5 separate regions of the Homo sapiens genome follow, and regions 1, 2, 3 and 5 are each linked to region 4. Evidence: fine-mapped expression QTL. A gene starts in region 4. Each other region holds a variant in brackets. All regions are shown on one strand. Distances are from middle to middle.

Region 1 (6,369 bases), 28 kb before region 4:
CCAACAGACTCTCTTCACAGGCAACATTCCCACAACCTGCTGGGGGTACTTTGGCAACACAAATGGGAATGGGCTCCCCAGAAAGTCTGGCTGCCTGGGCTCCTAAGGATCCCTAACCTCACCCCTACCAAGTTAGTGAACTTGGCGGGTTGATGCTGGATACAGGTTGATGCTGGATACGTAGCGCTGCCGGGTCCCCGCCTCCACGGCAAGGGCGCATTCCCAGTATGTCCCTGTCGTACCAGGTAGACCTTGTCTCATCCACACACAAGCCCAGAGGACGAGTTCCGGGGGCGCCACTTGGCCAGGCTCCCCTGTGACACGTCTTCGCCCTCCTGCCCTGCCTCCTGGGACGACACTCCTCCGTTCTCCCTTTTTATTAATTATCTATCATACAGTAGGAAAAGTGACCGTCTTCCTTTGGTGTGAGTTCCCTGAGTCTTCACACAAGTAGATTCACACAGCCGTTGGCAGGATGCAGAAGAGGTCTGTCACCCTGCAAAACTCTCCGTGCTGTCCCTTCACTATCACACCGTCCCCACCATTAGCCCCGGCAAACACTGATCTGTTCTCTCACTGTACTTTTGTCTCTGCTGGAACTTTATGTAGATGGCATCGCGAGACAAGTAACCTGTTGAGACTGGCTTCCCGCCATCCACATAATGTCTCTAATGAGATTCATCCAAGTTGTTCCCTCCCTGTATCCACAGGTCGTTCCCTCTCAGATCTGAGTGGTATTCCATTGTATGGATGCCTACAGTTTATCTGACTGTCCGCTGAGGGTGGTTTGTGAAAACCAAACAAGGCCGCTATCCAAAATGCAAACAAGACTGCTACAAACACTGGTGTGTGGGTTTCTACAAGGCTGCGCGCTTTCACTTCTCTGGGGGTAAATCTTATACCCAGGAGTGGGGCAGCCAAGTCCCACGGGAAGTGCGCTTTTAACTGCATCAGAGATGGCCAAACCATTTTCTACAGTGCCCGTACCACCTGCCTTCCCGCCAGTAACACTGGAGTGTCCCAGTTCCTCTGCATCCTCCCAGGCACGTGGCCTCGTCAGTGTTGCTGAGTTTCACCATTCTGAAGCCATGTGTTTCGGGCCCTCATCCTGGTTGTAGTTTGTCTTCCCTAACCTGTAATGGCGTTGAGCATCTTTTCCTGTGCTTTTTCGCCATGTGTATATCCCCTTCGCAAATTGTCAACTCTTTTGCCAATTTTTAGGTGTTTCTTTTTGCAGTTTTGAGTTTTTAAGAGTTCTCTGTATGTTCTGGGTGCAAGTCAGTGTTTTGATGTGTGCTTTGCAAATATTTTCTCCCAGTCTGTGGCCTGTCTTCATTTCATTTTAATTTTGAGGAAGTCCAAATTTATGATTTCTCTCTCGTATGGACCATATTAACAGTGCCATTTCTAAGTACTCTCTGCCTAATTGCAAACCCCAAAGATTCTGTCCTATGTTATTTCCTAACAGATCTATAGTTTTACATTTTCTTTTAGATCTATGATTTGAGTTGGCATACGAATTTTACTTCTCCTGACCAGTTCTTGATTGTAGGTTTCTCTGCAGAGTCTATGCACAGCCTTTCTTCCCCGTTCCCCATTCTGTGATGAGATTCTCCTTTTTACTGAAGTTCCCTTCATGGGTGGAATGTTAGATCTCAATAGGCTTCCTTGTTTTCTCTTGCTCACTATGGGAAACATGTACTCAGACTGCTTCATCAACTGGGATCTACAGAGGATGAAGGGCAGAAAAAATCTTTCTTCTCATTTGTGGAAAGCTCTCAAAATTACTAATCTTTTTTTTCCCTGACAGTATCTTATACGAAAAAATTTGGTCTTGTTTAGATATGTTTCCTTCACGTCACAACAGAAACAGTTTTGAACCCAATGACCATTCTCCAGATACAGCACTGTGAAGTTGTAGGATGAGTGACTGAATATTTTTTATTATGAATGTTTTATCAAAGACTTTGGGCAGAAGTGATTATTCCCATCTTTAAATATGGAGTATACTTAGGTTCCCTTCATTTCTTCTCTGCTCCCAATTCTTTACTATACTTTTCACTTTTTAAGGGTAGCTATATTTAATACATAAAATATATTGTATGCAAAATTATACATCAAACAACAGAGAAAATAAAACCGAACAAAAACACTAGCATGACCTTACCTCCCAGTGGCAATGGAACTCTTCTGCCTTTAGTCTCCATCTTTTTTCCATGCATTTAATAGTGGAATCTATACTGTGTTCTCTAATTTCTACCTTGCCACTTATCTTTCTATCTCTGCATCCATCTACCCATTTATTCACAGTTAATTTCAACCAAATGCCCAGTAACTGAAGTCACAGTTTAGAAGCATGACATAGATGCCACCACCAGCAAGAGTGTAAATGGGTATGGCTTTTTTTTTTTTTCTTTTGAGACAGGGTCTTGCTACATTGCACAGGTTGGTCTCGAACTCCTGAGCTCAAGTGATCAGCTCACCTCGGCCTCCCAAAGTGCTGGGACTGTAAGTGTAAGCCACTGCGCCTGGCCAGGTATGGCTTTTGGAAAAGCAAGTTGGCAGTGCAGTATACGTATATAGGAATCTCAAATAGTTCCCAACCTCTAGCTCAGTAACACTATTTCTGGACTATTTCCTAAGAAAACAACCAAAAAACAAAAGGCAAAAATTTTAATGCATAAACATATATACTGCAGTATGATTTAAAATCATTCAACACTGGCAACAATGGAAATACCATATTTTAGAAATAAGAGGATGGTCTGATACATGCACTTGAAGAATATTTTGTATCAATTAAACTTTAGAAGTCATGTTTATAAAGACCTTTTATTAACATGATAAAATGTTTATGATACAACATTAAAACAAAAAAATCAGGATACAAAATGGTGCACACAGTTATATCCAAACTGTTTGTATAAAACACAGACATAAAAACACTAACCATGTTATCTCCCCATGGTGGGATTATGGGTGACTATTAGGCTATTACTTCTGCTTGTCCGTCTTTTCCAAGCTTTGTACAGTGAATATGAATTACTTTTATAATAAAAAA[G/T]AACTTTATTTAAGGATTTTAAAAGTTACATACAAGCCAGGGCCAGTGGATGATCTTGTCCAGTCTTAAGGCAATGAATATAAACTGGAGAATGTTGACAGAACACAGGATTTCTAACTAAAAATGAAGAGAAGAATCAGTTAAACAAAGTATAATTTGCATTTAATACTGCAGTAATTTGGTTAACACACTAAAAGACAATACACATTATAATACAGTGTAACTTGTATAATATTATATTGCACTGGAAACTCCTGATTTTCGGTACCAGAGGGGCACAGCAGTATTATGGCAAGGGGAAATGGGGCTCAGCCTGCTGCCTTGCCCCTCTGCTGCCTTGCCCTTTCTGGCCTGAGGCCTGAGCACAGATGAGAACCTTGTTTCCAGGTTCACTGGGAACACAGGCTAGCTGCAATAGACCACTAAACTTCCTTCATGTCCCTACCAACAATACTGTCTACTCGAAACCATCCTTGTGCATCCTTCTTCTCATACCTCGGTTTTGCCCTTGGACCCCACCCCTTCCTTTCAGGCTCCTTGAGGACCTTGTCACATCAAGCCATCAACTGTAGATTCCGTACTGTATCTTTAACCCCACCTATTCCATTGATCCCTCCTAGCAGCACAGAAATGACTCCTTCTCATTAAAAACAAAAGCCCCGAAACCAGATAAACCCACCCCATCCTTTGATCCAAGACCCCTCTTAGCCTCAGGTTTCTCTCTGCGAGACAGTAATGAATATGCAAGCCCCTACTATCTCATCTACCATTCCCAGCTTCCTTGTGATCTGGCCTCCACCCCCATGACCACCAGAAGACAGCTTTCATCAAAGTCACCGATAACCGGGAGGCAGCAAAAACACTTCAACTGGCATCCTACTGATACTGTGGATGACTCTTTCCTTTTTGCTCCCCTCCTCCTGGCCATCTAGATCCCACCATACAGTCTTGGAGCCCTCTGGAGTGTTCTGGTAATTCCTTCTGTCTCCTTTTCCCCCTCCTTAAATGGTGATGCTCCGCAGAGCCACAAACTCAGTCTTCTCTCCCGACTAGGAAGACAGACACACAAACACACATATTTTCACTCACCCGCTGCACCCTGGACTGGGGGAGAAGAAATTTCAACCAGACCCTTGGTCTGCATTATTACCTCCTTCATGGTTAGTTCTCACATCTGTCTCCAACTTAGCCTTCCTGCTGCATAGCAGACCCAGCTGTGCATAGGCCACTCGGCTCTCCTAAAGGCACCTCAAATGAAGCCAGTCCCAAATAGAGATCATTATCGCCTGCACTTAGAACCTTGTATCTCCTCTTTCTATAGCCTCCCATGTCACTTTCTATGGCCTCCCATGTCACTATGGCCTCCCATGTCACTTTCTATGGCCTCCCATGTCACTTTCTATGGCCTCCCATGTCACTTTCTATAGCCTCCCATGTCACTTTCTATAGCCTCCCATGTCACTTTCTATGGCCTCCCATGTCACTATGGCCTCCCATGTCACTTTCTATGGCCTCCCTTGTCACTTTCTATGGCCTCCCATGTCACTTTCTATGGCCTCCCATGTCACTTTCTATGGCCTCCCATGTCACTTTCTATAGCCTCCCATGTCACTTTCTATAGCCTCCCATGTCACTTGGAGGCACAACAGTGGTCTCATTTCTCAAGCCATGAGCCCGGGAATCACCCTGCATTCTTTTTCCCACACTGTCACGTTCAGTCACCACATCCTGTCCACTGTAAAGTCCAGATTTCTCCTGAATCCCGTGCCCACTTCCTATCCTGATGATGACTGCCTAGTGAGGCCTTCTTCGGCACCATCCGCCTACCACTTCAGCAACCCCTTACTAACCTCCCGCCTCCAGCCCAAACGCCCTGCAGGCTGCTCCTCACTCTGGTAAAGTACATTCTTGCCCACAAAATTGAAATCTGGGACCAGGCCCAGAGCTTCCCAAAAGTTCTCAGTACATAGGTACATGGGGAATTTAGTAATTCCTCCATAGACCTCTAGGCCAAAAGAAATCCCTAATGTGGCTGGGAATGCCAACAGTTGCACTGATTTAAGTAATTACATCTAACTTAGTAAGTATTTCTAAGTAGCCACTAGAAAAAATAATTCATATAAATCTAAAGAAAAATGTTAATATTATTCTTAAATAACCAAAACTAATTCCCAGTGGGATGCGTGTGCCTGTCAGGTAGCTCACCATTTCCCACGCCTTGGAATCAGACAAGGTGCTCCCACTCGTTACCTGTTCTTCACCCGGATTTTCACACAGCATTAGCCTTTTTTGTTTTCACAGCAACTGCTGAAAACCCAGCTTCTTAAAGATACGACGTCACTGAAAGGAATGCAGTGTGGCCTAAAAATAAACCTGTAAACTATTTCAAGCTAGTAGTTTGTATGGTGTCCCAACAAATGTCAGGTATTACTGTTTTCCTCAAAATGTCCACTATCCCCTGGTGCCCTGTGAGTGCACTGGGGTGCCTGGGGCACTTCAGCACATGCTCTGTGGGCTGAGGACGTGGCCCCTATTTGCCCCAATCCCTCTGTAGAGGCTCCCTCTCTTCTCAACTCCCACAGTTCCTTCCTTTCCACCTTGTGCTCCCGTCGGATCTGAATCGCCACAGTCCACTCAGCTGATGGAGTGTTTCCTGCCTCTAGGCTTCAATGTGTCCCAAAAATGCCATCCCTTCCCTCCCAACACAGGGCTTCCTGGCAGACCCTCAACTCCTCCTTCCCATCTCTGTATGAGCCTACTCCAGACCACCCCCTCACCAACATAGGTACTGTTCTTGCATCACAGGAGGAGGGAGCTCAGCTCCTGGTATGTTGTTTCTTCCAAGGGCAGGAATGCCTAGAGTGTGAATATATGAAAGACTTACTTTCTGTAATTCAGGCCCAATGCAGTCCTAGTCCTTGTATAGTTGTCCCTCAGTATCTGTGGGGGATTGGTTCCAGGACCCCCTGTGGATACCAAAATCCATGGATGCTCAAGTCCCTGATATAAACTGGGAATTGTAGGGAGGGTGAAAGTGGACCATCAGATACTCTCCCTCCACGGCTCACTCCTACCTACCACTATACCCATGCTGTGGCCTTTCCACCAGCATGAAAATCAGGGAATAGCTCCCCTTGTTCAAGGCCAAACCCTTCCTGGTGCTCTAGGTCCCATTCTCCCTGAGTCCCACAGGGCCTTGCTCCATCACCGTCCCTCTGTCTACATACCTTCCCCTCACGCCCATACCTGGGGTCTAGGCTTATATGCCTGACCCACCCTACAGCTGCTATGTTTACTTCCTAAGCCAA
Region 2 (6,369 bases), 64 kb before region 4:
AGTAAGCTAGAGTGACTATATTACTTAATTTTTTACTTTATAAGAAGGAAAATTGCCATGGATAAATAGGGACATTATGCAATGATAAAAAATAGTCACTTAACAGGTAAGACATAATAATCCTAACTGTTAATTCACCTAAAAGCAGAGCTTCAAAATACACAAAACATCATCTGATAGAACTGAAAGGACAAATAATCAAATCTACAATCATATTTTGATACTCCAACACTCCTCTCTGAGTAAATGATAAATGAACTAGACAGAAAGTCCTCAAAGTTATGGAAAGACCTGAACAACAAAATGAACCACCTCGAGCTGATTGGCTTTTGCTGAATGCGCCACAGCAAAGCAGCAGAATATACAAGATTTTCAAGTATATGTGGAAGTTTTACCAAAATAAATCATAAATCAACCCATAACTAATTTAAAATAATTGAATATGTACAAAGTATGTTTTTAAAATCTGTAATGGGATAAAATAAAAAATATAACGAATGAGATACCTGTATTTTTTAAAATAACATATTTTTAGTGATCCATGTTTCAAAAAATTCTTGAGGAAAGTTAGAAAATATTTCCAAATAAATTAAAACGTAAATGTCATGTTTAAAAATTTGTGGAATTCAGGTAAAGTAGTGCCTATATCATTAAATGCTTGTATTAGAATGTAAGAAAAGATTCAAACAAAAAATCTAAACTTTGATCTTATATAATGAGAAAAGAAAAGTAAATTAACCTAAGGCCAACAAAAATATATGGATGATACCCAGCACTTTGGGAGGCCAAGGTGGGTGGATCACGAGGTCAGGAGTTAGAGACCAGCCTGGCCAAGGTGGTGAAACCCCGTCTCTACTAAAAATACAAAAATTAGCTGGGCGTGGTGATGGGCACCTGTAATCCCAGCTACTCGGGAGGCTGAGGCAGGAGAATCAGTTGAACCTAGGAGGCGGAGGTTGCAGTGAGCCGAGATCACACCACTGCACTCCAGCCTGGGTGACAGAGCAAGACTCCATCTCAAAAAAAGAAATATATGTATATATATTTTTTATACATATATATATATGGATGATATAGATAGGGAAATAAAAAATTTCAGAAATTATAGAAAAATAATAAATGAGGTTGATGGAACTAAATTTACTTTTTAAAAAATTTTTTGAGATAGAATCTCACTTTGTCGCCCAGGCTGGAGTGCAGTGGCACGATCTCAGCTTGCTGCAACCTCTGCCTCCCGGGTTCAAGCGATTCTCCTGCCTTAGCCTCCCGAGTGGCTGGGATTACAGGTGCCCGCCACCGCACCCGGCAAATTTTTTAATTTTTAGTAGAGACAGGGTTTCACCATGTTGGCCAGGCCAGTCTCGAATTCCTTACCTCAGGTGATCTGCCCACCTTGGCCTCTAAAAGTTACTTCTTTAAATAGATAAGACTAGTTGAAATGTCTGACATCAATCTGAGAATTTTTTTCTAAAAGTTGTTCAGAAGCAATGACTTTGAACAAAGCTTCAAATAGAGGAAAGTATATGTAAACTATAATTTTCTTGTGATAACACTCTTCGTTCTTTAGAGAAGATTCTGAGAAGACAAGATTCTCCTTGAAATTGTCTTAATTTTTAAGTGCCTACTATGTGGCAGATTTTTTTTTTGAGACGCGGTGTCGCACTATTGCCCAGGCTGGAGTGCAGTGACGTGATCTAGGCTCACCACAACCTCCGCCTCCTGGGTTCAGGTGATTCTCCTGCCTCAGCTTCCTGAATAGCTGGGACTATAGGCGTGTGCCACCATGCCCGGCTAATTTTTTTGTATTTTTAGTAAAGACGGGGTTTCACCACATTGTCCAGGCTGGTCTTGAACTCCTGACCTCGTGATCCACCCACCTTGGCCTCCCAAAGTGCTGGGATTACAGGTGTGAGCCACCACGCCTGGCCGTGACAGTTGTTTTCAAATGCATTAGCCCATCCAATTTGAAGAGCATCCTGTAAAGGTCAGCAGAAAGAGTTCACCTTCTTCACTCCATAGCATTTACTGCACTTCCTTTTGCAGTGCCATCTGTCATCTCAGGAGGCCGAAGATTTCCTCCTTCCATCTGATGCAGGGGCAGAATTTTGCTCAGAGTCTTTGATACCTTCCACATAACCATTCTTGCCTGAACACCTGTACAGGCACCACTAGTCACACTGAAAGCCAGTATGTTCCTGGGGAGAGATGCCAGACAGGAGGCAGTGGAAGGCTGATTAATTATTCTTTTCAAATTCTAGCTGGCATGTCAATCATGGAACCATTTTTCACCTCCTGGGAGAAGCCCAGGGTTTGTAGGAATTCAGACTCAGTTGATCGCTGTTCCTCTTAGAATTCTTATGAGGGGATGGAAGTTTTGAGCACCTAAGAAAGCCTGTCCCTGTGTTTGCCCGTTCAGTCCCCAGGTTCAGATAAGAAGGTCATTAAAATAAAACTGCAAATATGCTAGTGACTGGACAAACTCTCTGTCTACCTTCAGGCCTGTACCCTAAGAACCAGGAAATTATGTTTCAAATCATACTCTACTTGCAGCCCACTGGGAAAACAAACAGTATGCAGAGGATTTCCCAGAGGGAATACCAAGCGTCTAAAGTTGCAGTCCAGGGTGGCTGTGGCTGTGAGACAAGACCAAGGGTGTGTGGTGGCAGAGTCAAGGGACTTTTGCAGGGGATAGGATTACTCCATGTCCCAGGGAGGGGAGGTGATTCTGCACAGCCTCCAGGGGAGGCAGCAGTGAAGACCGGACAGCAGGCCAGTTCCCCTAGTCAGAAGGGAGGGCACATGAGGGTGACTGAGAAAGGGTGCTGTGACACGAGAAACTGTCGGGGCCAGAAACAAATCCTGGGAGTGTACTTGTCCCATGTGCCCAGGAAGGACAGGAATGCAAGATGTGGATGAGCACTTGAAGCCTCTCCCACAACCTGATGAGCACCCATAGTAGGTGCTCAACAGAAAGCATTCAGCCATGAGCTCCCAGGGGACTTAGCACATGCCACCCCCTAATGGTGTTTGATTCTCATTGTCACCTTTGTAGACCTGCTTTTAGTACCTTGGTCTCAGGGTTCTTTCTGTCACCTGAGAGACATGGCGCAGTGCTGAGAAGATGCAGTCAGGAGATGGGGCTCAGGCTGGGGGGAGGGGGAACAGCATAGGCTCTGGAGGAATTCAGACCAGGGGTCTTTCCAGCCCTGTCCCTTAGTAGCCACGGGATTCTGGGAAATACCCAAGCCCTGTGAACCTCAAGCTCTAC[G/A]TCTGTGAAGCAGGTGTGACAAGTCCTTTCCACTAGGACTGTTGGAGTGTGTGCCATGCAAGTGAAGCACCTAGCTCAGGGCCTGGCGTAAATTACAAGTTTAAAGAACGGCGAATGGCTGTTTTTTCCTATATTATTTTACCCCAGGCCTTAACACTCTGGGATTTTGTTGTTGTTGTCATTGTTCTCCAGGACTTATCAGATAATATACAGCTTGGTAAGACATGGAATAATCAGTCAAAGAATGAAGTTTCATCTATAAAATTCAGTAAATATTTCCTCTTAGAGGACATACTTCAAACTTTGGTTGTTGGGGAGTTTTCCCAAGCCAGATGCAGCTCACAGCTCCTAGAATTTGAGTCAAGGACCAACTCCTTCCTTCTCTGCCCGCTGCTTTTCCATCCAAACCACTATTTTTTTTTCATTTCATTGCCACCCAAAATCTAGCCGTTGCTAAAATTAGCCAAATGGCACTTGAGATGACCTAATTAGAATGTCATTTTAATAGAGTCAGCTTTGGCTCCCAGCCAGGCAGAAGAGTACCTGTCCAGTGGCTTCTGGGCCTCACTTCCAGGGATATTCACCCTTATCTCTCAGAAAACACTTGCAGGTGATGCGTATCCATCACCTAGCTCTTGTGCTGTGTTCCACCTCACTGGAACAGGAGCACAGAATGCTTTCCATTCCTGCCCCAGATGGAAACTCCTCTCTGCTTTATCCACTATTCAAAAGGAACTGCTGAGCAGTTTTCTATTCCAGGCTTTTCTCTCATGCCTGAGAATCTGGCTCTGGCACCACACAGCTTCATTACAATTAGCTCCCCGAGAAGGAACTACAGTTTCCCAAAGTCCAAAAGGTTTTGGCTCAGGGCATGTACACTCAACTATTAATACTCTCACCTGTTGCTCCACACCCTCACCGCTCTCTTATTTTCCCTCCAGATCTTAGAAGACATCTAGCCACTTTAATTATGTGACTGCAGATCCTAGACTCTACCGCCCTAAGGTTAGGGGTGGATGTGGCTTACCTTAGCATCTCTACTATTAACCTAAGCCTTCCAAATAGCAGATGCTCAATGAATCTTTTGAGAAAAAATGAGCCAGTGAGCAGGGGGACCTAATTATTCATATGTAATTCTCTTGCATGATCAAATAAGCCAAGCAAATCTGGTAAGACTTCAGGATAGTGGGTTCCCTCCTGGCCCAGGACAGGTCTAAAAATGCCGTCCAAAAGCCAAGTTCTGAAATCAAGAACCCCAAAAGACAGCTTGGTTGTCTTCTCCACTGTGGGTTCTAAGGGCCCTCACTGAAACCAGTTATGTGAAACCACCTGGTAGTTTTCCTGAACCAAATCTTGTGGAAAATAAACTTATTAGGCTGTCCGCCAGGCACAAGAATTACCCTGTGAAAGGCATACTGGAAAACCTACCATCAGCTCCCCTCCATCTCCAGTTAGGTCAGCCTCACCAGATATTCTGGTACTAGAACTTCAGTTTGGCTGGGGGCTCTGAAAACAGCCCCTTAGGCAGGCTTCCCATGAGCTAAACCAACTGAAACTGAGCAGACCAAAGAATGAGCCAGATGAGGAATCTACCCATTCTAACCAACCAGCCTGTTTGTCTTACTCATCCACGTACAAAAGAAAGTGTTAGCAGCTGCACAGAGTCCTTCCTGTTGAGCTAGAAGGTTGCAGTTCCATGATCTAGTATCCCATCACGGGCTAAACTGAGGCAGGGAGTGAGGCCAAGTGGATCTTGAAGTCTGACTATAAAAGGGATCCCTAGCAAAGTTTAAACAAACAATTGCATCAAGGATGTTTCTAAATTTAGCCACTGGGTGGATTAAAGAATGTCTTGGGTCATGTAAAGATATGGGCTTGGCATGGGATATCCAATGTTCTATGGAAGCTGATCATTGTAAAATTCTAACTACATGTCACCCTGGACCCACACAGGTCTGAACTGCATGGGTCCACTTATGCATGGATTTTCTTCTGCCTCTGCCATCCCTGAGACAGCAAGAACAAGCCCTCCTTTTCTTCCTCCTCCTCAGCCTATTCAATGTGAAGTTGATGAGAATGAAGATTTTTATCATTATCCACTTCTACTTAGTGAACAGTAAATATGTTTTCTCCTCTGTATGACTTTCTTAATAACCCTTTCTTACCTCTAGCTTTCTTTATTGTACAAATATAGTACATAATACACTTAAAACACAAAATATGTGTTCATCCATAATATTTCCAGTCAACAGCAGGCTAATAGTAGTTATGTTTCTGGGGGTTCAATGTTTATACACAGATTTTTGACTGCATTGGGAGTCGGTCCCCTTAACCCCCACCTCGTTCAAAGGTCTAGCATACAGGTGTTATCTTGCCAAGTGAAAGAGGGAAGCATAAGCAAGAAAAAATTAAGAGGGATAAGGATGTCATTGTGAAAGGGAGTCTTGTTTCAACATCTTCAGAGAAGCTGTCTACAGGATGAAGTCATCGAGTTCTCATTCTGGCTTATAGCTTGAAAGTCTGCTTATGGCTTCAGGCATTGTGGTGAACTCTCTGAGTGGCTCACACATCAGGCGGGAGGGTTGTTTGTTGACGTTTACATGAGATGTTGAGCTGCAGCTTACAGAGGACCTGAGCAGTTCCCGTTAGTATGAGACTTGCAGCCAGATAATGGAGAAAATTAGAACAATTTAGAATCATGTATGGCCTGCAATTAGACTCGAAAACAACGAACAGAGCTACAAGCTAATAACAAGTATACCATAGTTTTTTTAATTTTCCTGAAACTTAATTTTTCTCTCTTCTGTCTGCATTTCTATCAAAGATAACTAGAGTAAGACTATTTTGATAAAAAAATAAGTTTAGTCTCATCAAACTTAGAATGATTACTTATGTAAGTGCAGCAAGGATCCATTAGCCACATAGGCTCTTTTAAAGTTTGCTTTGTTGGAACTTTTAGGGAGGATTCTCAGATTTCAGTTTTCAAAGCCTCTTTATGCTAGGAAGCCAAACCAAGGTGGACTTCAGACTTTGTCTGCTGCACCTATAGATTTGGGTGAATTTCTCTCTTCTCGGGGTCCCCCAAATATTTTGAGGTTCCT
Region 3 (6,369 bases), 22 kb after region 4:
CTTGGGTATGTCTTTATCAGCAATGTGAAAACTAATACATATGCCAACATAAAACCCCAAGTCAAGAGGTCAAGCTGTGACTTTGGTTTCTCAAGTTGACTACTTGGCCCTCTTCCGAGTTATACTTTTCTTGTTTCCTTTCCTTCCTTTCCTTACTGTTCTAAAGCTTTGTGTTTTGTTTGTTTGTTTGTTTGTTTTTTGCCTCAGTCTTTCCTTCTGCCTTTGGCCCCTCAGTCGAATTCTTTCTTCTGAGGAGGTAAGAACTGAAATTGCCGCAGACCTATATGGATACACCACCAGTAACTCAGGGTAACTTGGGTACCTGCCACCACTAACAAGAGGGCTCCTCAGGGTGCAGCTTGTCAGCAGAAGCCACGGCTCCAGCAATAACAGTAGGACAGGTGGGTTGGCACTTTGGAGTCCCCTCTGCTCTGGGGCCGGTGGAGCCCTTTGTATACATTTAAAGTAAACACCTCACCTTGCCTGCTGGCAATACCTGGGCCTCCTCTGCTGTATGACTTCAGGACACTGCCTCAGACCAAGGCCCAAACCTCTCTGAGACCTGGGAGAAAGAAGTGAGGGGGCACCACACGGAAAATTCTGCACGGGATTCCCAAGGCTGACAGAAGGAGCAGGTTTCAGGGGTGCCTCCTCTGTCTGCGTTCCTCCAGGTATTCAGATTTATTCCCGACAGGGCCCAGCCCTTTCGCTCCTGCTCAACTGTGGATGAGTCTTGTGTGCCAAGGCCACCATCTTCCTGGGACCCCCAAGGAGAAAGTGGGGGACCATGTCCCTTCTCCACAGGCCTGCCTTGGGCCTCCCAGGACTGATAGCAGAGGCAGATTTCCTAGGTCCAGGATAACAGGTCTGCTGAGTCCTCTCTCAGGGCTCTAGGGGACTTCTCTCTTTGCTGGCCTGAGGCCCTACTCCTCATATTACACCCCTCTCGTCACTGGCACCCCAAAGACACAGCAAAGATGTGCCACACACAGCCAGCACTCCCAGGACCTCCCAGGGTCGAGGTCCTCTGAGTCCTCCCTCTTCTTCCTCCTCTTGATCCTGTCAGGGCTGAGCCTCACCCCTTTGTGGACCTGAATCTATATCCCTCAAATTCCCAAGGCCAATTGAGAAGGTGCCTCAGTCTCAGAAAGAAGTGGAGTAGGCCCCCTGTTCTGGGTTGCTGGGTCCCCTCAGGCCTGCCTTGTCTCCCAGCCTGGCCTGGACCCACCTTCTGCTCCCCTGAGGCCGTGCTCATGATTCCAAGCCCCTTCCCTCCATCAGCCCCCGATGTGAACATCAGGATCCACATGCCTGTCCACCATGCCCGGAACTTCCCAGGGCTGACAGCAGAGATGGAGCCTCGCTCTGTGGGATCTCAGCCCTCCTTCAGGGTCTGGACCATGATGCCTGGCAGGCAGAGCATGGGTCCTGCCCTTTCCTAATCAGCCTTTCCCTGGTCACACCAAGCTCTGTCTCCAGAATGCCCTGCGGCTTAAGTGGCAGTGGAGCCGGGAGCGGCCCAGCCTGAGAAGTCTGCCCCCAGGTGGCCCAGGGCTGGCAGCAGGGGTGGCACTGGGTTAATTGGGGTCCTCTCTCTGGGGTAGGGGCATCCTCAGTCTTCCTCAGTGTCTCACCTTGCCTCCTCACAGAGCCGGGGCCTGTTTCACTCCACCAATCTCAAGCTGCCACTCAGAGCGAGGCGCTCTTGCTATCCTCTGACCCCTGAGGCCACGTCAGTGGCGTGACATCCGGCCCCCAAGCCTGGGGCTTCCCTGGGTCGACAGCAGCAGCGGAACTGGATTCTTCCAGGCATGGGGGTAGGAATGGTTATAGGGGCCCTCAAGCTTCCCTTAGGGTCCTGACATTGATTCCTTGCAGAGCCTGGACACCCTGCCCTCTGCCAATTGGGTCTGCTCCCTTCACACCAAGTCTCTGACTCCCAGTCCCCTGAGGTGGCAGTGGTGGGAGGCGTGTGTTCAGGGCGACAACATTGCCAGGATCTTCCAGGATTGTTAGAAGGGGCTGAGCTGGATTCTCTGGTTCCTCTACAAGGGGAGGGTGGACTCTCAGTCCTCACTCAAGAGGATCCTCCTCCTGGCTCTTGGATCTTTGATGAAGCCATGGGCAGGAGATACTCTGTTTCTGCCACTTCTGAGCATTTGCCCAGCTGCATCTCTTGCAGAGAATGGCTGCGGGTCCCAGGCCAGGTACTCCCTGCAGAGCGGCAGCTTCTGTGATTGTAGTGACCTCTGGGAGAAGACACACACCTTCCCAAGGAAGCTCTTCCCCAGCCACAGGTCGAGTTTGCAAACCTGTTTTCCTAAAATATTTGTTTTTACATTAAATAGGCTGAGCAGCAGCATGAAATTTGGGGATTCCTGCCATTAGAATTATCGAGTATTTCATAGCTCAGTGCAGTGATTTTCATTTTTAAACTTTCATTCAGCATCAGAAATCATACTTAACCTCATTATGCCTGTTTCATTCTAATGCTCAACACTCTATTTGTAATCCATTCTTTATGTTCAGTTAAGCCAATTCACCTATTAATGTGGTTTTAGGTGGTTATTAGCACAGACTGGAGCTACTACTGTTTCAATGAAACCAGACTACTGGCACCTGTGGTCTCAGGTGCCACCTGACATTTTCACACTGGAATAGGGGCAAAAATTTAAACATTTCCTTCTACACATCCTGTCATCTTCCTTCTATGCCAGCTATGGACTCTCCCTAACTTCCTTGACACTCTGGCCATTTCGATTACAGGTACCAGTTAAACACAGTCTTCATTCTCCCCCAGGGCTTTGCTTTGTTGTTTAGATTTTGTTGTTGATACTATTTGTTTTTTTATTTTATTTTATTCTTTCTTCTATAGTTTTCCAGGATTGATTTTGGTAGTTGAGGGCAGAAGTCCAAGCCTGACATTCATCTTGGCAGCTAAATTTTAAGCATTATATCTGTAAATCTTGAATAAGAAAAATTGATATCTTTTCAATAGTCTGTTCCCTATTAAGGGATATAGAATACGGCTCTGTTTATCTGGGAACTTTTTGACCTAACTCTATCAGTACTTGCATAGTTGTTTCCATAAAGATCTTGTATGCTTTGTCTGTCTCCATTGGATAATTTCTAGATTTTGTTGCCATTGTGAATGGGGTATTTTCTATTACTTGTTCTGAATAGTTATTTATTTGGGTTGCAAGGATTTTGATTTTACTGTAGTAATCTTCTGTATACTATTTTTCTGAAGTCTGTTATTTGACTATTCCATCTGCACAATTCTTTGAATTTTCTAGATAATCATATTGTCGTACCAAATATTAAATCTGTTCAATATTTATACTG[A/AT]TTTTTTTTTATATCCACCTCTCTGGCCTTATGTTACAGTGTAATTTCCAAAGATAGAGGTTATAGCATAGTCCTATGACAATAATTCTTCTGACATTTCATATTTGGGTATGCTGGCCAGTGATCGTAGGAAAAGCTAATTTCCTTCTAACCTCATTTGGCTAAAACTTTTGACCATGACCTCTTGTAGAATTTCCTCCAGAATCTTTTCTGTACCTATTATACCTATTAAAGTGATCACTTTTTAAAATCTTAATTCGATAACGTAGGAAATCACAACTGAAAATTGTTTTATATTAAATCATGTTTTTGTTCCTTGGACACAATCCGTTAATTCACTTCTATGTTGAATATGCTACTAATTTAATTAATATATTTGCCTCTGTGTGAGTGAAGTTTGGCTCAAGTGTTTTCACGGTGCTGTCCTCCTCTGGTACCTGAATGAAGAATGGTTAGCTTGGGAAAATAATTTGAATAATTGCCCAACTTTTCGTATGCCTTGGAAGAGTTTACTTAAGGTGGCTTTGAGCTTTACCTGATAACAATGTAGAATTGGCCTCCGAAGCTGCCTTGTCCACATTTGAGGATGGCTTGAGCTTAGATTAGTTTCACTTTTTATTGTTTGGTTAAAGATTTGAATTTCTTTTTGTATCAATTTGTTCATGTACTTATTTTCCTAAAATATTATCCATTTCACTTAGGATTTCAAATTAAATATCATATTTATTTCAAAAATATTTTCATTACAAGCATTTTCAAATACACCTAATAATAGGGTAAATACTATAATTAATCTAATATACCAGACTTTCAGTATCAATAATCTTCAACTCATGGCCAATCTGGTTCTAGTTATACCCCTACCTACTCCGCATAGCAGAAACTGAAATAATGTGGAGCAAATCCAAGACACCATGTGATCTCATCTCCAAATACATCAGAGTGCATTTCTAAAGATAACTACTCTCTTATAAAACATAAAGCCAACATTATTATCTTTCCTAAACATGTAAGCAAGTCATTAATATAATGAAATGTTCACTTATTTGTCACATGTATCTGGTGGACATATGCTCCTGTTAAAATGCAGTTTCTTTGAATCGGTTTGCAAATATGATCTATACATTGTGTTTATGTTCTTAATAGCCACCTTAAGTAATTTATAGATTCCCCCACATTACCTTTTTTTGAAACTCATTTGTTGAAAATGAAGACATGCCTTGTGTTCTGTCCAGTTTCCCATACTCTGGATTTTGCTGAGCGCAATACTTCTCTTCCTGCATTACCTATCTGTTTTTCCATGTTGCCTACTTTTTCCATTAAAGCCTCTTAAATTTTTAAAAATAGTCATTTTAAATTATCTGCCTCCTAATTCCAATATCTGAGTCATATTAGAGTCCAGTTCTGTTGATTGTCTTGTCTCTTCAGACTATGTATTTTCTTACTCTTTTGCGTGTGTCCCTTGCAATCCTTTTGTTGAGAGTGAACGTGTTGTATGAGGTCATAGGAACAGAGGCAATTAGATCTCTACAGTGAGGATGTATGTCAATTTGGCTGGGAGTTGGGCTTTATTTCTTATACCTATAGATGCCAGAGGCTTCAGATTCCTCTAGTGTCCTTGTTTTTGTCTTCCGTTTTATTAATTGTGGCAAATGTGTAATGCTAATATAAGAGGATGGTAATAGGGAAAACTGGGTGTGGGGTATATGAGAATTCTCTGTACTATCTCTGCAATAATTCTGTAAGCCTAAACATTTTCTAAAATAAAAAGTCATTAATAAAGAATGACTTGTTGGACCCCATTGGAAGGAACAAGAATAACCACCCCTCACATTGAGAATTGGCTCTGCAAGAGAGAGAATAAAACATTTATCCTGCATTTCCTGTACTAACTGTATTTCAGGATGACACAATAGCTACAGTTGATGAGGAAAGTTTCTTCCTTACTGGAGAATTCCAGCTGAGGAAAATGCAACATATGAGAGAAAAGGAAAACAAGTATTTGCAATATCCAGCAATGCAACTGATGCAATCCATGCTAATCAATGGATGAAACATTGTTGAAGGGTTGATGACGCACTCTGCAATGGAGGAACAAGGCTGTCTCCACCTCTCCACCTGAGCCCACTGATCAGAGCCAATATGATCAAGGGTTGAACAGCCAGAAGTTGTATGCCTCCTGCTGGAGTACAGTAGGAAGCACAAAGAGCCTCCTATGTGTACCTTCCCCCCCAACAAAAAGCCAAACCTGCTTCTGGCCTCCACCTGAGGTGAACTTTGAAAGATAGGAAATCCAGTCCTGGATTAAGACATCTGGCCCCTCATTGAAGACACAGAGTCTACTCTGGAATGAGCACTAGGTGTCACCAGACAGCCTTCTGCTTTGTTCTGCACCCAGTCTTTACACGTGCACCATTGTCCTGCCCGCCGCAGCAGTGCCACAGCAGCAGGCCAACAGCCTTGCCTGTTCAATGCCAATGGTGCCTTCCATCCCCTTTATCCCGAGAGAAAGGTTTCTGGACACCTAGACCTGTATTCTGTACCCAGTCCTCAGGTCAAGTCAGTAACCTGGAATAGAAACCTGGATCCAAGAAGCCAGTTCATGGTACAGTGCAGCTGACCTGGCTCTGAGGCAGTCCATGGCTCAGAGGATCAGGGAATACCCTTTACCTGGCTCACCAGACCAGTGTCTCTAGACCCTGCCCTCTACACTCTGTTCCAAGGCCCCGAGCGACTGCATGTCTTTGTTCTCTTCTAGACGATTGCTCTTATAATACTGTTAGCATTCCTTCCCAGACATCCTCGGTTCTCTCTCGAGATATCTCTTCTGTGAGGCCTTCTATGAATACCATTGTAAAAATTGCAATCCCTCCTTCCACCCAATTTCCAGCACTCCTTATTTAGCTCTCTCGATTCAATTTGTTTCCATAGCGTTTGTCACCATAAAACCTACTTCACCTGTAACTTTGTTCCGCAGTTCATTGTGTGCCTGCCCCTCCCCTCCCGCTAGAACATAAGCTCCAC
Region 4 (6,369 bases):
GAAGGTGGGAAGAGTGTGAGAAGAAAGAGAACCAGGCCACAGACCACCAGGAAAGCAGTGATTGAAAGCAGCAGCTCTAGATTTATCTTATAGGCTCTGGAGAGTTATTCAGTTATTTACTCCACAAATATTTATTGAGCCAGGTACTATTCCAAGTATGCAGGCTACGATACTGACACAGTCACGGCCTTGACCCCATGGAGCTTAAAGTTTAGTGGGGGAGGCAGGTATTAATCAAATAAGCATCCAGACAGACACAAGGGTACAAATATGCACTATGATGGAGGAGTAGTAAATACTACAGGAACTGTAGAAACAGGGAGCAGTAAATCTGGTCAGGGAAGTCAGGAATGCTTCCCTTAGCAAGTGCCAAGTGAGGATAAATAGGAGTTCACTAGGTCTGGAGGAGAGGAAAAGAGAGGGAAACATTCCTGGTAAAGAGAACAGTGTGTGACAAGGTCCTGGGGTAGGAGGGAGATGTTGAATTGGTTCAAAAATAGAGGCAGGGAGCAAAGCAGTAGCATCAAGGTTTGAGTCCCCAGCATAAGGTAACTTCCTGTGTACACCCCTCAGTTTTCTTTCTCCTATAGAGAAGGCCTTCCTCAGCATGGAAGGAGACTAAAGCACACTGTCAAAAACTAGGAGTGCTCAGGAGAGGTGAAACACTACCAGCTAAAAAAACAAATCTGATTTACCAATAATACCTGGCCAATGTCCTCTTGAAATATCTGTAAAATTAAGGAACTCACTACCTCTGGCAACAATGAATCAGGAAAATGGCACAGTATAAAAGACCTTTAAACTTTTCAGGTAGAAATACATTTTAATGCAGGTAGAATTAAGAGATTGATGAATATGTTGAGAATTACTATAAATCTGCTTAGATACCAGGTATTTCACTGTAATTTCATATACTAATTTTTTTGGGGGGAAAAGGGCTAAAGGAAAAAACGGTTAAAGGTAGTATCAGTGCAGCACTATTTTGCTTTGGCAACTCCGTTAGCCTGTTTGATCACTTAAGGCAGTTTCTTGAGGCTTCTGAATTCTCTGTCACCTTGCAAACAAGTCACTGTAGCTTTCTATTTGTAAGGCACTTTGTAATCAATCCTTAATTGGCCTCCCTACCCCACTGAGAGATTATACTCATTCTACAGATAAAACAATAGATAAGTGAGTTGCCCAAGGGCACAAAACAATTCAGTTTTTACTTAACTTTCTTATCACCATCTCCAAATAGAAGACATACAGGGCTTGTCCAGCCACAGCACCAACCCTACTACCCTGCAGACCAATCTTAACCCCCTGATGCAGCAGAGGAAGGGACTGCAGTTAGTTCTGTTACCTCCTCTATGCCTTCGAAGCCAACAATGATAATGTCTGCACCGTGTTAGAGACACTGGCACTCCTAACCAGAACATGAACTCAAAGTGGAATAAGAGCACATACAAAGTCACAATGACTCACAAGTTAAAATGTCACCATCCCTAGGGAGACTGCACCCTCAACATACAAATACTCCCCTAAAACTTCCTTTCATCCTCAACAAGCAGCCAAGGCATAGGTCCCCAGAGTTGGCCCCCGCAGTACAGCACTGCACAGTACTGTAAGGCATCTTAAGTGTACAAGCCCTTCTTCACCCCATGCTGAGACCGCCAGCATCTAAAGCACCTAACATAGGTTACAGCACACAAATATTTACTGAGCACGTCTTCCCAACTGGCAAATAAGGGAAACGGATACTCCTTTCGGAGAGTAGTGCATTTAAGAGATCAGTTAGGCCAACTCCTCATTTTACAGAAGGGCCAAAGAAGGGCAGAGAATCACCCAGTTACATATGGCCTCGTCTCCAATCCAAGTCTTTGGGCTCAGTTTAGTTCCACAAACATTTTATATGTGCCTACTATGTGCCAGATACGGTGGGTGGGAGGCGCTGGGGACACTGAGATGAGCAGGAGATGGTCTCAGCTTCAGGGAGCTCACAGCCTGGGGTAAAGAACAGTTACAAAACAGTCGGGCAAGTGCAAGGACAGGCGCTTGAGTGCTTAGCCAGTGTTTTCTCCACACTGTCCACTGGGTGTTCCCCATCTGGAAAAGAAGGACAGCAATATCTACTTCCTGCAAATAAACTTGTAGTGAAGACTGATGAGAAAATGAGTATGGAAAATGATCAGGCTCACCCAGAAATGCATTATATAAGGTATTGCCATACCCCGACACTGACTCCAAGGATTCAACAGTGTTTCAGGTATCCGTTCAACAAAGAAGCAAACAAGAGAGGGATGGGCATAAACCCAAGGAAAACCCCAAGGACTGCGAGGAACTGGAGGAAACAGCTGGGGTGGGGGTAGGGGTGTTGGGTCGAGTGAGACGGCCCTGACGCGGAGAATGGAGGGCCCGCAGCGGCGCAGAAGAGGATGGAACCGAGACGAAGAAGTTGGGACACCAATGAGGGACAGCAAGCAGAAAAGAATGGGGTTCCCTTGGGGCAGGACGGGGCTCGCGGCCGGGCCCTTCCGGCCGTGGCCGGGCAGGGGCTGAAAGCACCGGGCACGGGAGGAGGAAGCGGGCGGGCGCCGAGGCCGACTGTTTTGCCTGGGGACCGCTTGCACCCGCAGGGAGGCTCGGGCAGGCGCCCGGGTCCTCGGGCTGCAGCATCTCGCCCGCCGTGCCTCCCCGGAGCCGAACACCAGCCCGCGCCCGAGCCCGCAGCGCGGACTCCCGGGGGCGCCAACGACGCCGCCTCACCTCGGGTTGAAGTCCTGGAAGAGGCCCCTCAGGTTCATGGCGGAGAACTTCACCGCGGCGTCCTCCTCCTCCTCCCCCGCACCCCGTGCTGCACAGCCTGCGCCTTACAGCGGGTTCATGGCGCCAGCGCCAGCCGCGTCCACGCTGCTGCTCCCGCTACTGCTGCCGTCCCCGCTGCCGTCGCCGTCGCCGTCGCCGCCGCCGCCGCCGCCGCCGCCGCCGCCGCCGCCGCCGCCGCCCGGAGAAACCTGAGCCACCGCCCCCTGCCCCTCCTTCCGGGCTTCCGTACGAGGGCCGCGCATGCGTCCGGAGCCCCGCCCAGAGCGCTCCTCGCTGGGAGGTCCCCATCCTTGTGTCCGCACGCGACCGGCGGAGGAGATGGCAGGGGGATGGAGGCTGGGAGTGAGCAGGGCCCCGAGGAAGGGGATGCTGACGGGCTGAAGGCCTGCAGGGAGGGAGCGCGCCGCCCGGGAGTCTGGCGGGCAGATCTTGGCAGACACCTGTCACCTTGGCCCGCGCTACCTTCTGGAGATTTTCCCCAGTGACGACTGAGCCCTGGGAGTAGTGACAATGAGTGAGACGTTGCATTTTTGGCGATGTCATCCCAGGCTTCACCTGTCACATCTGTCAACGACTCCAAAGTTTGGGTCCCAACTTCCCTTCCAATTCCCAAGCCAGCGTGTCCAGATATGCTGGCTATTCCCTACTCAAGTTACCTAGCACCAAAGTCACTTCCCGTGCCAACCGCCTTCCCCTCCTGGGTTCCCTTTTTCCCTTAGCAGCAGGCCTATTCGTACGCAGGGGGGTATTCAAGCAGGAGACGTGGAAATCATCCTCATTTTTCTAACCCAGTTCAGAGCCTCCTTGGATCCTGTCTAAACTTTGTGGTCACTTCACACCTGACCTCTGCCTCCACTCCAGGCTGCCCTACTTACAAGTACCAGGTTCATCTTCCTTGGGCAAGTCAACATCTTTGAGTCTCAGTTTTTCTCCTCCGCAGAATGGAAATGATAAAAACCTCTTTTCTAAGCGTGTTAGGAAGATTCAGTGAGATCGTGTGCATAACACACTGCCTGGTACATGCTAGGTGTACAAAGAATGCTGTTGCTATCTGGTACTCTTTCAGGTGTCAACCTCCTCAAGGATTTTGTTTGCTTTTGGAATCCAAGAGCAGGACAAGCTCATAGCAGGTGACCTAGTTTACCATCTTCACTTTGGGCAGATTTAAGTTTTCATGAGCACAACAATGCCTTAAACATTAGTCTACTATCATTATGGATAATAGTCATCCTTTGTTGCAATAGCAGAGTTTCACAAATGACAATTTTATACTGTTTAGCCCCAAGGGCAGCTTGAGAGAATCACAATTGCGATAGTCATACTTAGTCTTGATGTATCACCTTTCTTCTGAGAACGTAAAAACATATCATAAGTGGTAATTAAGCTTCCCAACACCCACTGGGAAATGGATATTATTATATGAGCTGATTTTAAGGTTGAGTAATCCAAATCAAGTTTTCATCTGCTGAAGCACCAGGACCCTGTCCCAGACTTTTTCACCCATCTTCCTTTCCCATCCTCTGGGTAAAGTCCAATGTGTAGCCCAGAGGAGGTTCTCAATGAACACTCAAATACAGACGAGGAATTAAGGCGCAGAGAAGCTTGTATAACAGGCCCTGAGCGAGCCAGCAAGTAAGGGTGAAGGAGCACAGATGAAACTCAGGGTCTAGCTGAACCTGCAGCCCATACTGTTAGAAAGAGGTGCTTGCCAGTGGTCAGATTGGACAGCACCATCTTCATTACCAGTGACCGTGCCCCAAGCAGGCATGAGAAGATGGTCTGCCAGTTCAGACACTTGAATAACAGGCATCACTGCCCTTTCAAGAGCTTCATAGATAGAGACCAGGCAGGCTCCTCAGAGTCCAGAATCTTGAGGGCAGACGCTACTTTAATGAGATCCCAGGGAGTCTGGGAGCTGAACCACTGCTCTGCAGGCCCACAAGTTCAATTTTAGCAGTTCTTCCAGAGTTGACCAGGCCCTGGAAGCTATCTAGCAAAGGCAACAGGACACTGATGCACAAATTACTTGTCAGTGTGTTCTTTTGCTCTGACAAGGTAAATTGCCAAGAGGAACATATGAACCTGTCTGTGAGGAAATACAGGAAGAACTGGACTTTCCCAAGGCTTCACATCCCCAGTCTTCAAGAGGTGGATTACCTGGACTGATTCTGGAAGCCCAACCCTTTATGCTACTGGTGCTCTCATGGGGAAAAAAAAGCCAGAAACCAGATGGCCATCTGGTCCTCTCTCCAGCAAGTGCAAAAGACCCTACTGACAACCTGCTGCTCACTTCAGAGCCCTCACTCAGTGTCCCACCCTAGATGGAGGTCCAAAGCCTCAATGACCTGTGTAGACAGACCCACAAGTGATCCTGACATTAAAGAAAGACCCTGGGTCATATGCAGGCACCAGGAGTGCTGGGAAGCTTAATTACCACTTATTAAATGTTTCTACATTCTCAGAAGAAAGGTGATACATCAAGGCTAAGTATGACTAGTGGAGAAGATGACACCCACATCTTCTCCACTAGCAGAGTTTGACTTTATCTTTTCCTTGACTTGCCAAAAAATTCCAGGGCTATCTTGCTAGGGGCTCCCAACATTCTTCACTCAAAGGAAAGAAATGGCTCTGGATTGAAAAAGTATGACCCCCAAATAAGCCAGACAGCATATTCTTGGTGACTTTGGGGTGGGCTTAGGTTACAGTGTTCCAGAAGAATCAGTGTATATCTGACCATGGTTTTAAGGACTAACTTGGATTTGTACCACCCTTCTGATAAGCTGGTGGCTTGTCCAATTCAATATTCACATTGGCTTCAATGTGGTGATATAGGATGCCTCTCCTCTGAAGAGCAAGGCACTGGTGAAGAGAATCCTGGTGAATTTAGACACTTGGACTGGGGAGACCTGGCATAGGGGAAGAAAATGGCCGTGGAACCGCCCTCCACACACCACCAAGGCTCCTTCCCTGGCTGCAGCAGTAGAATGGAGAGAGTGTGGAATTAGTAGATTTGAACTCAACACCAGTTTCACCCTTGCTCCAGTGGAGGGAGGGCCAGCTGGGATCCAGTCCCGTGCAAGGCCTATGGGACTATAAAGAGCTTCTCGGAGGTCAGATTGACAAGTTCTTTAGCCAGGAAACATGGAGGTGCCAGCCTGCAAGGCTTTCTTAGCCTGGAATTCCTCACCCTAGGTTCCCTAAAGTCCACACTTTGAATGCCACCAATTAGAGAATTGCTGAAGATGCTGGGAATTAGTCCACCTGCAGAATGCAATCTCCTGCTTCCTGACAGAACCCTTTGTTTCAGGCAACTTTAGCCTAACTTGGATACACATCTGAGATCTCCCTGGGAGGTGGGTGGGTCTGGAGTCTAGACAGGGATTTGATTAAATACGGGGCTAGATTTAGGGGCTTGGAGAACTGGAGGAGGAGATTGCAGGGAGGCAACTGAAGGGACCACAGAGGTAGTAGCTGTAGTTCTGCTTGGACTTGCAGCAACCCCTATGGCCTTCCAGAGCCCAGAAGGAGCCACCTCCTCAGGGAGTCTTCCCTCAGGTAGGCAAA
Region 5 (6,369 bases), 220 kb before region 4:
GTGCTTATGTGTTGTAATTCCCTTGGTGCAGGTGGGCATCTGATACTCATTCATTCAGCACCAAGGGCTAGGCCAGGGCTCAGGACCAACTCAGCAGCAGCAATCTGTCATCTGTCACACACCTTCTTGTGTTGCCTTTCTCAGGTTGGCTGCAGCCTCTGAGCCATGACCCCGTAACCATTTCAAAGATAGCCATGGACACTAGAACTCTGTTTCAGAAGCTTTAAGACGTCTCTAGGAGAGGGGTGGCAACCAAGTTATTTTATGCATGCTAACACCAGGTAGCACAGTATAAACAGGCACAAATTAGAAATATTTTGAAGAAAGAGAAGGGATTGAGTTAACCTATGAACAGTGATGTGGACAGTTGCTTTCATGAAAAAAGAAACATACAGCAAATGAGGCCCCAGCTAACTACCTATTGTATGTGTCTACATTACAAAGAGAGAGACAGAAAGGATTGAATTTGAGAGTGTGAAAATAAATAGGGAAGAAATGTGTTGGGCCACAGCCTCCCAGAGAGTGGCTCCCTAGGTCCCATTCACAGCACTGATTTAACTTCCTTCAGGATTTTTTTCAATGCCTATTTTCCTTTCCACTGCTCTGTTTAAAAAGAAATGTAATAACATTTCTTTTTAATAACAGAAAGGAGGTTATTTTTGATAAGTTTGGGGCTTTTAAACCACTAGTTCATTTAACAAACACTTCCTGAGTTATACTGTGTGCTAATCCATATGCCAGAGGTTGAGACTATCTTGCTGAATAGAATAATCATGGCTCCTGCTCTCATAGGGTTTACCTTCTATTGGATGAGAGTGAGAAAAACAAAAATAAACACATAAGTATAATAAAAATGTTATCAAATAATAATAATGCCTATGAAGACAAAGTGGTAAAATGGCCAGCAACTGTGATGAGGTAGTCAGAGAAGGCTTCTCTCAAAAGATAACCTGTGATCTGAGAATTGAATGATGAGAAGAAGAAATCTGTGTAAATACCTGGGGGAAAAGCATTGCAGGTAGAGGGAACAGCAGATAAAAATGCCCTGAGGCATAAATGACCTTAAAGTGTCCAAGGAGATGCAAAAAGAAGAAGGAGAAGAAAGAGAAGAGGATGAAATTGGAGAGGCAGGTGAAAATGGGCCATCTAGGACCTAGTAGTCTATGGTAACATATTAGGATTTTATTGTAAGTAAAATTATAATTTACTGGAGGAGTTTATACATTCGCCCCACCTTCTTTAAATAATAGCACCTCAGTTTTTTATTGTAAATATCTTCTTTCCTCCATTGAAAACAGTCCAGTGGGACTAACAGTCTCAATGCTCTGCTAGATCCTAGCCAAAGCAGAAGCCTAAATCAATATGTATTTTGTCTAGACATGTTTTTCTTTTGATTTTATGACAGCTTTATTGAGATATAACTCACATATCATCCAATTTATTTATTTAAAATGGACAACTTCATGGTTTGTAATATGTTCACAGATATGTGCAATCCTCACTCCAGTTAAGAACATTTTAATTACCTCAAAAAAAAACCCTGAACTCTTTAGTTATCATCCTTCTACTCTCTTTCCTCTCCCTCTCCCATTCTAATCAACAACTAATCTACTTTCTGCCTCTGTAGTCTTGATTTGATGGACATCAAATATAAATGGAATCATATGCGATCTTTTTTGACTGGCTTCTTGCACTTACCATAATGCTTTCAAGGATCATCAACACTGTAGCTTGTATCAGTACATTGTTGCTTTTATGGCTGAATAATATTCCATTGTATGTATACCACATTTTGTTTATCCATTCTTCAGTTGATGAACATTTGGAATGTTTCTATCTTTTAACTGTTACAAATAATGCTTTGTGGACATTTGTGTAGAAGTCTTTGTGTGGCCATGTTTTAAATTATCTTGAGTGAAAACCAGATTTGCTATCATATGGCCACTTTGTGTTGAACATTTTGAGGAACTACCAAACTGGTTTTCACAGTGGCTGTGTCAATTTAAATTCTCAACAAAAATGCATGAGGACTCCAATTGCTCTATATCCTCACCAACACTTGTGCAGATGGACTGAATGTTTATGTCTCCCCAGAATTTTTATGTTGAAGCCTAATCATCAATGTGATAGTATTAAAAGTTGGGGCCTTTGGCAGGTGTTTAGCTGATAAGGGCTCTGCCTTTATGAATGAGATTAGTGCCTTTACAATAATAACTCTGGGGAACTAGCTAGCCCCCTTCCACTATGTGAGGATACAGTGGGAAGTCATGAACTATGAACCAGAGAGTGAGCCCTCAACAGACACAAAATCTGACAGAGCCTTATTCTTGGACTTCCTAGCCTCCAAAACTGTGAGCAATAAATTTTTCTTGTTTATAAGTTACCCAATCAAAAGTATTTTGTCATAGCAGACCAAACAGACTAACACAACTTATTTTCCTCTATTTTCAAAAATTACAACCATCCCAGGAGTTGCAAAGTTGTACCTAATTGTGGTTTTGATTTGTGTTTCCCTGATGGCTAATTATGTTGAGCATTCTTTCATGTACTTACTGGCCCCTGTGTATTCTTTTTGGAGACATGTCTATTGAAATCCTTTGCCCATTTTTAATTGCCTTGCCTTTTAATTGTTTTTCAATTGTTTACCTGTTAAATTCATCAAGTATTGTTTCCAATCATAACAGTATGAAACTACAAATCAATAACAAGAAATTTTGGAAAATTGACAAATATATATAAAGTAAACAGTATGCTCCTGAACAACCAATGAATCAAAGAAGAAATTAAAAAGGAAATTTAGAAATATATTGAGACAAATGATAATGAAAACAACATATCAATCCTATGATGTGCAGCAAAAGCAGTTCTAGGAGGAAAGTTCATATCAATAAATGCCTACATTATAAAAAGAAAGATTACAAATACAGAGCCTAACATTATGCCTCAAGGAGCTAGAAAGGGAAGGAAAAAACTAAACTCAAATTTAGCAGAAGGAAAGCAATAAAGATAAGAGTAAATATGAAAACAAATATATTGTGGGTGCTATATTATTATCAGATATACAATTTGCAAAAATTTTCTTCAAAGACTTTAATTATGATATGCCAAAGATTTTACTCATGATGAATTCCAATTTACTTTTTTTAGTTGCTTGTGCTTTTGGTGTCATATACAGGAAACTATTACATAGTTCAAGGTCACAAAGTTGTATACCTTTGTTTTCTTCTAAGAGTTATATAATGTTAGTGCTTATATTTAGGTTTTAATATATTTTGAGTTAATTTTTTTATATGGTGTGAGGGAGGAATTCAAATCCTTCTTTGCATGTGGATGTCCAGTTGTCTCAGCACCATTCACTGAAAAAAACTAGTTGATAGATCATAGATATAATTTTTACCATAGACTTCTCAATTCAGTTCCATTGATCTATATGTCTATCTTTAAGACAGTACCATATCTGTTGATTACTGGAGATTTATAGTAAGTCTTAAAATAAAGAAGGGTGTATCCTTCAACTTCCTTCTCTTCCAAAA[T/A]GGTTTAAATTATTCTTGGTTCCTTGCATTTCCATGTGAATTTTAGGATCAGCTTATCCATGTCTAGGAGTATCTTTTTCATTCTTTTACTTTCAATGAATTAATGTTTTTGAACCTAAAGTGTCTCTTATAGACAGCTTATAGCTGGATAAAGTTTTGAACTAAATTCTGCAAATCTCTGCCTTTTAATTGCAATGTTTAATCTGTTTACATTTAATGTAATTATTGATAAGGCAAAATTTATGTCTGCTATTTTGCTATTTATTTTCTATATGTAATTTATTTTTGTTTCTCAATTCCTCCATTACTGCTTTGTATTGTGTTAAATATATATTTCATAGTGTACAATTTTTATTTGCTGTCATTTCTTTTACTGTGTATTTTTTAGTTATTTTCTTAGTGTTTTTCCTGAGGATTACCCTTAACATATCAATTTATAAAATTCTAGTGCAGATTAATTCCAACTTAATTTCAATAGTGTACAAAGACCTTACTCCTTTGTGGAACTTTTCCTTCTTATACTAATATAGTCAAAAATTATATCTTTATATTTGTGTGACTCTCAACTAGATTTATAATTATCACATCATGCAGTAGTCTTAAGTCAAATAGAATAGAAATGGTATTATACTGAAAAATGCACTTATACTGGTTTAGATCACCTACATAGTTATCTTTAACAGTTTTTTAAATTTCTTTATATGGATCTAGGTTGCAATCTAGTTTTCTTTTATTTCTGTCTGAAGGTCTGCCAGTTACAAATTCTCTCAACTTTTTGTTTACCTGGGAGTATCTTACTTTCTTGTCTTTTAATGACAGTTTTTCTGTGTACAGAATTCTTGGTTGACAGTAGTTTTTATTTTTTCTCAGCATTTTGAAAATGTTATCACAGTTTTCTGCCTCCATGGTCTCTAATAAGAAATCAGCTGTTGATCTCATTAAAGCTCACTTGTAAGTGATGAGTCACTTCTCTCCTGCTGTTTTCAAGGTTCTTTCTTTGTCTTTGGATAATTTTATTATGCTGTGTACTGGTGAAGATCTATTTGTGTTTCTCATATTTGGAGTTCATTGAGCTTCTTGGATGGGCAGATTAATTTCATCAAATTTGGGATGTTTTTTCATTGTATCTTCAAATACTATATTAACATCTTTCTTTCACTCCTCTTCTGGGACTTCCATTATGCATATTTTGGCACACTTGCTATTATTGCACAAGTCACTGAAGCCTTGTTCATTTTTCTTCATCTTTTTTCTTTCTGTTCCTCAGACTAGAAAATCTCAATTGAACTAATTTCAGGTTACTTATTCTTCTGCCCACTCATATGTGCTGTTGAGCCTTCCTTATGAATTTTTCATTTCAATTATTTCAATTCAATTATTTCACACCCCAGAATTTTTATTTGGCTCTTTTTAACTTATATTTCTTTACTGATGGTCTCTATTTGTTGTGACATTGTTCTTATACTGCTCTTTAGTGATTTAGACATGGCGAAGTTTAGCTTTATGAATATATGTAAATAGGAGATCTAAAGCTTTTGCCTAGTAAGTCCAATTTTAGGGCTTCTTCAAGGATTATTTCCATTGATTGCTTTTATACTTGTATATGGGTCATACATTCTTATTTCTTTTATGTCACATAACTTTTTGTTGAAAACACAAGAGTTCAAGTAATAATATAGTTTAGATATTTGCTCTGCTCAAATCTCATGTTGAAATTTAATCCCCAGTGTTAGAGATTGAGTCTTGTGGGAGTTGTTTGGATCAAAGGGGCGAATCCTTAATTAATGGTTTGGGCTATCCCCTTGGTGATAAGTGAGCTCTCTCTCTGAGTTCACACAAAATCTAGTCACTTAAGAGCTTGTGGCACCTCCTCCTCAACTCTCTGTCTTTCACTCTTGCTTTCACCATGTATGATGCCTGCTCCCCCTTCATTGTCTACCAGGATTGTAAGCTTCTTGAGGCCCTCCTAGAAGCTGAGCTGATGCCAGCACCATGCTTTGTGTAAAGCTTGATGGGCTGTGACTCAATTAAGCCTCCTTCCTTTGTAAATTATCCAGTCTCAGTTATTTCTTTATAGCAATGTAAGAACAGCCTAACACATACAAAAAGTTGGTAATGAGGAGTAGGGCATTGCTACAAAGATACCTGAAAATGTGGACACTACTTTGGAACTGGATAAAAAAACAGAGGTTTGAAGAGTTTGGAGGGCTCAGAAGCAGACAGGAAGATGATGGAAAGTTTGAGACTTATTAAAGACTGATTAAATAGTTATGACTAAAATGCTGATAGAGATACAGACAGTGAAGGACAGGCTTATGATGTCTTAGGAGGAAATGAGAAATTTATTGGGAACTGGAGCAAAGGTCAAGCATGTTATGCTTTAGTAAAGAGCTTGGCTGGATTTTTCCCATGGCCTGTGGACTATGAAAGTTTAAACTTGAAAGCAATGACCTACAGGATCTAGTGGAAGAAATTTCTAAGTGGCAAAGTGTTCAAGATGTGGCCTGGGTGCTTCTAACAACCTATGCTCAAATGTGGGAGCAAAGAAAAGACTTAAAATTGGAACTTATATTTAACAGGGAAGCAGAGCATAAAAGTTTGAAAAATTTGCAGCCTAGTCATGTGCTAAAGAAAAAGCTTTTTCAGGAGAGGAATTGAAGCAGGCTGAGGAGCAACCACTTGATAGAGAAATTTGCATAACTAAAAAGGAGCCAAGTGTTAATAACTAAGACAATGGGGAAAAAGCCTCTAAGGCATTCAGAAATCTTTCAGGCAGCCCCTCTTATCACAGGCTCTGAAGCCTCGGAGGACTGAATAGTTTCATGGGCCAGACCCA

Direction of the effects. Positions count from the first base shown, and alleles are read on the strand shown. Sizes are in standard deviations (SD) of each study's normalised expression. Not every link is listed here.
For the expression in monocytes of the gene that starts at base 2,995 in region 4, allele A in region 3 goes with a higher level than allele AT (moderate effect, 0.43 SD a copy in Fairfax 2014).

Evidence for each region. PIP is the estimated chance that this variant, and not a neighbour inherited with it, causes the effect.
Region 1: its variant is the best candidate, but not a certain one, in a credible set for the expression of TMEM185A in whole blood (TOPMed, PIP 0.80).
Region 2: its variant is the best candidate, but not a certain one, in a credible set for the expression of TMEM185A in whole blood (TOPMed, PIP 0.85).
Region 3: its variant is the best candidate, but not a certain one, in a credible set for the expression of TMEM185A in monocytes (Fairfax 2014, PIP 0.89).
Region 5: its variant is the best candidate, but not a certain one, in a credible set for the expression of TMEM185A in whole blood (GTEx, PIP 0.67).

Annotation. Positions count from the first base shown.
Region 1 is chrX:149,600,893-149,607,261 of GRCh38, forward strand. It overlaps TMEM185A (transmembrane protein 185A), which reads right to left. Exons shown (of 7, transcript NM_032508.4): 4 at 3,095-3,178. Among named protein-coding and RNA genes, the nearest start is that of HSFX2, 8.8 kb to the left of the region's middle. The variant G/T (reference allele first, on the strand shown) is at 3,062.
Region 2 is chrX:149,565,081-149,571,449 of GRCh38, forward strand. No RefSeq gene overlaps it. Among named protein-coding and RNA genes, the nearest start is that of HSFX3, 18 kb to the left of the region's middle. The variant G/A (reference allele first, on the strand shown) is at 3,269.
Region 3 is chrX:149,650,956-149,657,324 of GRCh38, forward strand. No RefSeq gene overlaps it. Among named protein-coding and RNA genes, the nearest start is that of TMEM185A, 22 kb to the left of the region's middle. The variant A/AT (reference allele first, on the strand shown) is at 3,346.
Region 4 is chrX:149,628,798-149,635,166 of GRCh38, forward strand. It overlaps TMEM185A (transmembrane protein 185A), which reads right to left and starts at 2,995. Exons shown (of 7, transcript NM_032508.4): 1 at 2,746-2,995. The coding sequence starts at 2,783. RefSeq lists silencers at 2,488-2,537, 2,548-2,957.
Region 5 is chrX:149,406,013-149,412,381 of GRCh38, forward strand. No RefSeq gene overlaps it. Among named protein-coding and RNA genes, the nearest start is that of IDS, 96 kb to the right of the region's middle. The variant T/A (reference allele first, on the strand shown) is at 3,534.